Linked DNA regions of Homo sapiens. The protein of the gene in region 1 purifies or fractionates together with the protein of each later gene. This does not show direct contact. Each region holds a gene or a part of one and is shown in the gene's direction. Other genes may lie near its edges.

Region 1 (3,646 bases):
TGGCTAATTTTTTTTTTTTTTTGTATTTTTAGTATAGATGGGGTTTCACTGTGATAGCCAGGATGGTCTCAATCTCCTGACCTCATGATCCACCCACCTCGGCCTCCCAAAGTGCTGGGATTACAGGCATAAGCCACTGCTCCCGGCCTTTAAGTATCTTTAACTCAAAATAATCACTATGCCAAAGCGGCATATTTTGGTGTGAAATGCTCTGAACCCCATGAAAGCCATGGCTCCTTCTACCCTGCCTACCAGCCTCTAATAAAAACCTGAGCTTACAGGGAGTGAGCACTTGCTAGTGCTCAAAGAGCCTCACATGTGTTCTCTCACTTGTGTCAAGGGTAGGGGCTATCAATCGCACTTTACAGACCAGGAAACTGAGGCATGGAGAGGGTAGGTAGCTTCTACACGCTTTCAGAGCCAGCAAATGGCAAAGCTGAGACTTGCACTTGGGCAGGCTGACTCGAGTCCAAATTCTTACCCACAAAACCAAATTGCCACCTGCCATTATCTAATTACACTTAGTTGTTGATTCCTAAAGTGCAGTCTATTGTTTCTAGAGTTTAAGTGCCATTCGAGAGGAGTTGGAACTGCCCAACATTGAGAAGATGATCCTAGAATGCAGTGCTGACATCAGTGAGTTGTTCGATGCGCTCATGACGCTGGAGATGCAGCTGGTGGAGCAGCTGGAGGTAAGGCTGGGCCCTGGGCACAAGTGCCAGAATCTGGCGATGCAGCTGCACATCCATAGGTGAACTGTAGCCTTCATGGGCACGCCTCTGCTGGAAACGTCCAGCACGACTCAGCGTGGCAGGCTGTAGCTTTCTTGCTCATCAGTCCTGTTTGCTTTTATTACATTTTAATCATTTACATTGGAAGTGATTCTTGTGGAAAATGAGAGGTGAGCTCATTCTTCTGAAATGGTCCCCCTATCCTGGAAGTCAGTGGGGAGAGGTTTTTGATTAGACCCCTGGAGCTATCCGGGTACTCTAAAGGCAAAGCGCACCCCCACTTGGGGACCAAACAAAGACCCCTCCGCATTGCAGCCTGCAGTTGCCGCTTCTCAGGTGACGTGAGGAGGCTGCAACTCAGCACTAAGTAGTGAAAATGAAAAGCGCCGCTGTCTGAAATTCATTAGCAGCCAGAGTATGTGTTACAAGGCAGCGGAGGCTGGGAGTCTGAAGTGGTGTGATGAATTGAACCTCATCGGATGCTGCTGTGGCTGGGCCAAGTGATAGCACCTAATCAATTCCTCACACGTCAAGTGACACCTCAGACATGGGATAGATTTCCCCATCACATCACAGGGCAGGTGCTCCCTCCCTGCTGGAGAGCACAGGCACTGCAGAAGCAGCGCACAGTGCCAGGGGCGAGTGAGGCAGCAGCTCCCAGCCTTTTCAGGCACGGAGATTGCCTTTCAACATCCAAACATTTCCCAGAACCCATGTGCCATCCTACTTGTATTACTGGTGGCCAGAAAGCCACAAGCGCAATCATGCTTTTCAATGACCCTATTTTTATTCACGAGAACAGCACATACATGTGTTTGAAAATTATGTGAGGTGCTCACTCTGCAGACAGTACTCACATTCCTATAGATTCCACCCCTGCCCACCTTGCAGCCCCTGGAGTCTATAGCAGATGGGAGTGGGGCACTCCGAGAGTGGCAGGCCTGGAGATCACATCTTCCATTGTTCCTTCAATCAACACTAACTCCCATTTGGGCCTTAGGTGCCTTGCTAAGCACCACAAAACAGCAACTAACTGAAAGAGATCTGGAGTGCCAGCCCGCTCCTACTGAGGGCCTCCTCTCTGTCAGGCACCTTGCAAAGCATTTTGTGTGAAGTGACTCATTTAACCTCACCACAACGCCACAACGCAGGGATTATGCAGGTAACCTATTTCCCAGATGAGGAAGATAAGGCCCAAGGAGGTGAAATGCCTTTCCCAGAGTTACACAGAGTGCTGGAGCTGGGAATACTGACCCAGGCAGTCTAGCTCTTAACAGCTCACTCCACTGTTTCCCTGGAGGTGATGCACAGATGTCACTGGGAAACCCAAAGGAGAGGGGGTTGGCTGTGTGTGTGTGTGTTGGGCAGGCAGGTAAGGGGAGTAAGACCAGGACAAGTGTTCCTGGCAAAGTTCCGGTGACAGCATTAAACATTCAGATGGTGAGGGAGTTAATATGGTTGGAGAACAACAACTTTAGAGAGAGCAGAGGGGTCAGTTCACAACCATCTGCTCAGGAGGGTCAAGATGGGTGGTCTTTATGCTGAAGGTCTGTGATTAGAGGAGCTGGTTGCTAAATTTTGAGGAGTACCTTTTGCTCTGTGCTGGACATCTAAATATGCATGTTAACTGTGTTCTTTAACATTTCCAGGAGACTATAAACATGTTTGAAAGGAACATTGTTGACATGGTAGGACTGTTTATCGAAAATGTCCAAAGCCTATATCCTTTCTGTGATGACCTTCCCCATGGGGAGGTGCTACAGAGCCCCTGGGCTTGTCCCGGCCTCTGGACAAAAGAATGTTCCACAGGGTCTGAGGAGGTTTCCCGACCCTCAGAACAATGATGGCCTGGTTAGAGCTGTGGTTTGGATGCCCAGAGGGACAACATCCAAACTGTTTGCAGTAGGCTCCCAGCATGATTGTTCTCATATGAGTGATGTTCACTAGGAAATGACGCCCCCTGTGTTGCAGGCAAGCACACTCTGGGGTTGAGGCAACCCCCACGTGGAAGACACTATAAGGAGTACATCAGGTGAAATGTTAGGGTGAGGAGCCAACATCGGAGCATGGCCAACCCTTCTTCCACCCGAACTCAGGGCACTCCACATGGGGCAAACTGCTGTGCTCCAGCTAGCAGCAGCCCTGTGGTCCTGCCCTCCTGGGGCTCACAGTCCCTCAGGGAGACAAGTTGTAGAGGCAACAAGTGGTGCCAAATGCACAGGGTGAGAAGCAGTTAACCCAGAGGCCAGGAGCCTCCATGCAGGAGGGAGAGAAGAGTGTGATGGCAGGGGCCGAGGGTCCGTCCGAGGTGTGGGGCAGGGGCAGGGAGTCGAGGAAGGCCCAGGGTTCGGAGCTTGTGAGTGGACGGTGCTGCCAGCCAGAATTTCCGAGCTCGCCTTGGGCCCTTAAAGTCTGTCTCCCGCCGTCTGAGAGCATCAGGGACGCGCCGGGCCTGCTCCTCCCGGGCCTTTGCTTAACTCGGGGCTGCACGATGGCTCAGTGCCGGGACCTGGAGAATCACCACCACGAGAAGCTCCTGGAGATCTCTATCAGCACCCTGGAGAAGATTGTCGAGGGCGACCTGGACGAGGACCTGCCTAACGACCTGCGCGCGGTAGGCGGGGCGGGCTGCTCGGAGCCTGACAGATGTGGTCCAGCCCAGCTCTGTGGCTGGACTGAGGCTCTGTGAGTAAGCCTGACAACCTCCCAGAGCCTCAGTGTTCTCATCTGCAAAAGGGCACACTAACCTGCTTTACAGGGTTGCTGGCAGATAAAATAGGCTAACAAAGCACCTGGTGGGGCACCCAGTGGGGCCCAGTTAAAGAGGAGCTCATGATAATTAGATGGTTTCAACTTTCCAACAGGGTCGTTTCCAAAAGTTCAATTATGTGGAGGCTTCTGGCACTTTCTAAGAG
Region 2 (3,746 bases), on another chromosome or scaffold:
ATTTCCAGTCCTGCCAGCATCCCAGCCAGACAGGTGGCCCTTCTCTTAGAGCTCAAACCTAGGCCTTGACTTGTCAATCAAAGGGGTGGGTGGGGCAGCTTCCCTCAAGCAACTTCACTCTGGGATCTTGGGCAAGACGTTTTGCTTCTCTGAGGCTTCAGCTTATTCTGTGTAAACTAAATGGTAGCCACTATTTGATTATTAGCTGGGGAGGAGAGATCAAGCCTGACCCCTGTAGCGGCTGGAGTTTTACAGCAGGGCCCACCCAGCACCCAGTAGGTCCTCACAGATACTTGCTGGGTGACTGAATGGGTGTGCCCACCCATCAAAGCCTGAGTGCTGGAGGTGGCCACCCCTTTCCGCGTATTATCAGAGACAACCACCTCTTACTGAACTGCTGCGTTTCCAGGCACCAGTATACCATGGCATCGGCTCCCACCATCCCATGTGGGGTCAGTCCTATTACAGTCCCAACAGATGGAGGGACTGAGGCTCACAGAGAAGCCACTCACCCAAAGTCACATGGAGAGAAAGACACGCACACGTACTCCACATCCCCAGGAGACACACTCTGCATCTATGAAGTGGTATGGGTGTGCTGTCCTCCCTCGGGGCAGCCCCACACTATCCTAAGGCGGGGTTGGGGTGGGCGGGGGGATGGACCCTCCCCACCCATCCAGTTAGCGCCATGCACCTTGCCCACCATCGCTGGAGACAGACCTAAGGCGAGCCCCTTCCTACCCATCTGGAGGCCTCGGTCTTTCCATGTGTTAAATGGGCTGGGGCCGGGGGACGCTCTGCAGCACCCCCTTCCCTGGGCTGGGACGCGGCGGGGAGGGCAGGGGTGACGCTCGGAGAACAGAGAGGCCGAACCCAGAGAGCGGGCCGGGACCTGATACCGATTTCCCACCCGTCCCCTGCCATGGGCGCCGGACGCCTGCCGGAGAGGGCTCCCCTCCTTAAAGGGCCAGTGGCCTCCAAGCCCGACGCCTGCGACCGGCGGTGGGTGATAGTGTTTCCCCTCCCTGTCCAGCCGAGGGAAAAGTTAACTTTCCAGGCTTGGCTGTGTTCAGGGAAGGAACTGGTCTCGCCTGCCTGCCCTCCATCCCTCACACCATCCCTTGTCCCGGACCCTGGAGGCGGAGGTCCAGCCCCCAACTCGGAGGCCCCGGGCCCACCCTCCCCTTCCGCCCCCGGCCCCTCGGCAGGCTCCGCCCCTCTCTGACGTCGCCGAGGCCCGCGCCGATTGGTCGACTGCACTGTCGCTCCGGACACTTCCTCCTGGGCCGCCGCCGCCGCCGCCGACTTAAACTTTGGAGGGGGAAAAAGAGCTACTGGCGCCTGGCGACCCTCCCTGCCCCCCACCCAACCCCGCTCCGGCAACGCCCCCTTCCTCACGGCTCCCGACCGAACTTTTCTCCAACTTCTGCGACTCGTGAGATTCCCTTCTACCCACTCCGGCCCTCGGGACCCCTCTGCCCATCCCCTGGCCGGTCGGGTCCCTGCGAACCCCTTTATCTCTGGAATCCACTCGGTCCCCGACTCAGAGACTCCTGCCCTCCACCCCCAAGGTGAATTCCCCCGGGCCGCCTTCTGAGTGGGATCCTCTTCTTGGAGCACTGGATCCTGGGATTCCCTCTGCCCCCTTCTCAATCCCTCCTCTAGGGAAGGGGCCTTTGAATCGCGGGCTCTCCTGATCCCTGTGACCCCGACCTACTAGATTTCCTCTCAGGCTTCTTGGAATCTCAATCGCTGGGACCTCCAACCCACTACTTTTCTCCTTTCTGATCTTCTGGGAGCCCTGGATTCCGGGCCTCTGACCCACTATAGTGCCTTTCTCTCCTTCCCAGGACCCCGCCATCCTCAGGTCCCCTCCGCCTGCCAGATCTTTTCTCGGATCCCCGCTCTCCCACCACCTGCTCACGAGATCCCGCGGATCTAGAACCCAGGGTCCCCCGGGGCCCCCCGGCCGGGTCCCGGGTGGGCTCCAGGCGGCCGGTCCCCGGCCTCCCCCCATGGCCACCGCCCCCTCTTATCCCGCCGGGCTCCCTGGCTCTCCCGGGCCGGGGTCTCCTCCGCCCCCCGGCGGCCTAGAGCTGCAGTCGCCGCCACCGCTACTGCCCCAGATCCCGGCCCCGGGTTCCGGGGTCTCCTTTCACATCCAGATCGGGCTGACCCGCGAGTTCGTGCTGTTGCCCGCCGCCTCCGAGCTGGCTCATGTGAAGCAGCTGGCCTGTTCCATCGTGGACCAGAAGGTGAGGGCGCAGGCTCCCTGGATCCAGCTCGGGGAGAGGTTGAAGGAGGGGGCGCTGGCAGAGGGGTCTGGGGCCTGGTGTGCGGAAGAGGGAGGAAGGAGACCTGAGCTTTGGGTGATGGAGGGATAGGGGGCATTGCCCCCCTCCATTGCCCCTCTCCCCACCATCCCTTTGAGAGAGGACTGGGCAGGGGTGGGGTGCCCCAGAGGCCTCCCCAAATTTCATGTCCCTGCATGTCGTTGTTTTCTGCAGCAAACAGGGAGGAAGGGAGGGGCCAGCCAGGTGTAGAGAGGGGAGGAAGGGGCAGCAGATGTCGGCGGACCTCCACGTCCAGGCCCATCCCGGGCCTCCCATTTGGTGGAAACAGGAGAAATTGAACCCGGGCTGGCCATGGTGATCCGGTGACATGTGTGGGTGCAGGTGCTTGAGTTAGCTGCCAGGGGCAAGTGAGGTCTCGGAGCCCAATTCTGCCCTCCCCTAAGCCTGAGATATGTGTGGAGGGGCAGGCACTCCTACAGACCCTGGGGACTCTATTCCCTTTCCTAGTCACAGTGCTGTTAGCCTACTCTTAATTTTGGACACCAGGGTCCCCAGGGTGGGCAGCTGGGTGTTATGGCAAGAGGAAACCAGGTGGAACTCCACGTCTAAACCGTGAAATGTTAAAAGAATAGTGGGCTTCTGTGTTGGAGTACTGGACTGTAGAAATGTTAGAATATTAGAATCATAACTTGTTGGAATATGCATCCTAGGCAATTAAATTGCCCCCATGTTCGTGTTCAAATATTAGAATTCTAGGTTTGTGAAATAGTAAAACATTAAAATGCTGGAATATTAGATTCCTAGATTGTTGAATCCTAGAAAGTTAAAATGTTAGAATTTTAGAATGCTGGATGGATGAGGTCCTTGAATGCTAAAGAATTCAAAGAGCACAGTCCTAGCTTGTCAGACTCCTAGAATATTAAAATATTAGATTACCGCTTATTTAGGTTATTGAAATCCTAAAATGTATAGTGATACCAGGTAGGAATCTAGAATGTATAATTCTATAATGTGAGCATGTTGGAGTCCCAAAATATCCAAATTCCAGAATCTTTTCAGACTCCTGGAAATGAATCCTTTGGGCATCAGAGAAACGTGGGGAACTGGGCCAGCTCCCCCATTCTACAGACAAGGAAACTGAAGCTTAGAGAAAAACTTCCCAAGGGGTCAGGGCCAAGGCAGTCCTGGTCTTCTGTGGACTCTCTCTTAGCAGTGAGAACTGATAGGGTTTTGCCCACCAAATGCCTCAATCCCGCAGGCCCAGCTCACCACCCCAACTCAGCCCACTTCATGGGAAGCTGGTGGCAGTGGGGGTACGGGGGCAGATTGTCCCTTGGGTGAACTTCTTTGTCCAGTGCTCAAGTCCCCAGCCTGCCCCGCTCAGGCTTCACCCCAGTTTTATTTTTCTGCCAGGTCCAGGTGTGTTAGGGCCGCTTACCTTCCTTCCCGAGG

What was found. Proteins that work in one complex are often made in the same cells at the same time.
Region 2: the proteins of DRC3 (region 1) and PRKD2 purify together in Homo sapiens (affinity purification with mass spectrometry; one large-scale study listed by BioGRID and IntAct). This does not show direct contact.

Annotation. Positions count from the first base shown.
Region 1 is NC_000017.11:18,003,803-18,007,448, forward strand, and holds part of DRC3 (dynein regulatory complex subunit 3), read left to right. Parts: intron 1-560; coding exon 561-692; exon of another isoform or gene 693-702; intron 703-2,380; coding exon 2,381-2,451; intron 2,452-3,221; coding exon 3,222-3,345; intron 3,346-3,595; coding exon of another isoform or gene 3,596-3,643; exon of another isoform or gene 3,644-3,646. UniProt on the Homo sapiens protein: Component of the nexin-dynein regulatory complex (N-DRC) a key regulator of ciliary/flagellar motility which maintains the alignment and integrity of the distal axoneme and regulates microtubule sliding in motile axonemes.
Region 2 is NC_000019.10:46,714,640-46,718,385, reverse strand, and holds the start of PRKD2 (serine/threonine-protein kinase D2), read left to right. Parts: upstream 1-1,575; 5' UTR 1,576-2,015; coding exon 2,016-2,255; intron 2,256-2,335; exon of another isoform or gene 2,336-3,746. Other genes in the region: uncharacterized protein LOC107987269, read left to right, coding at 1-33, 410-587, 1,209-1,575.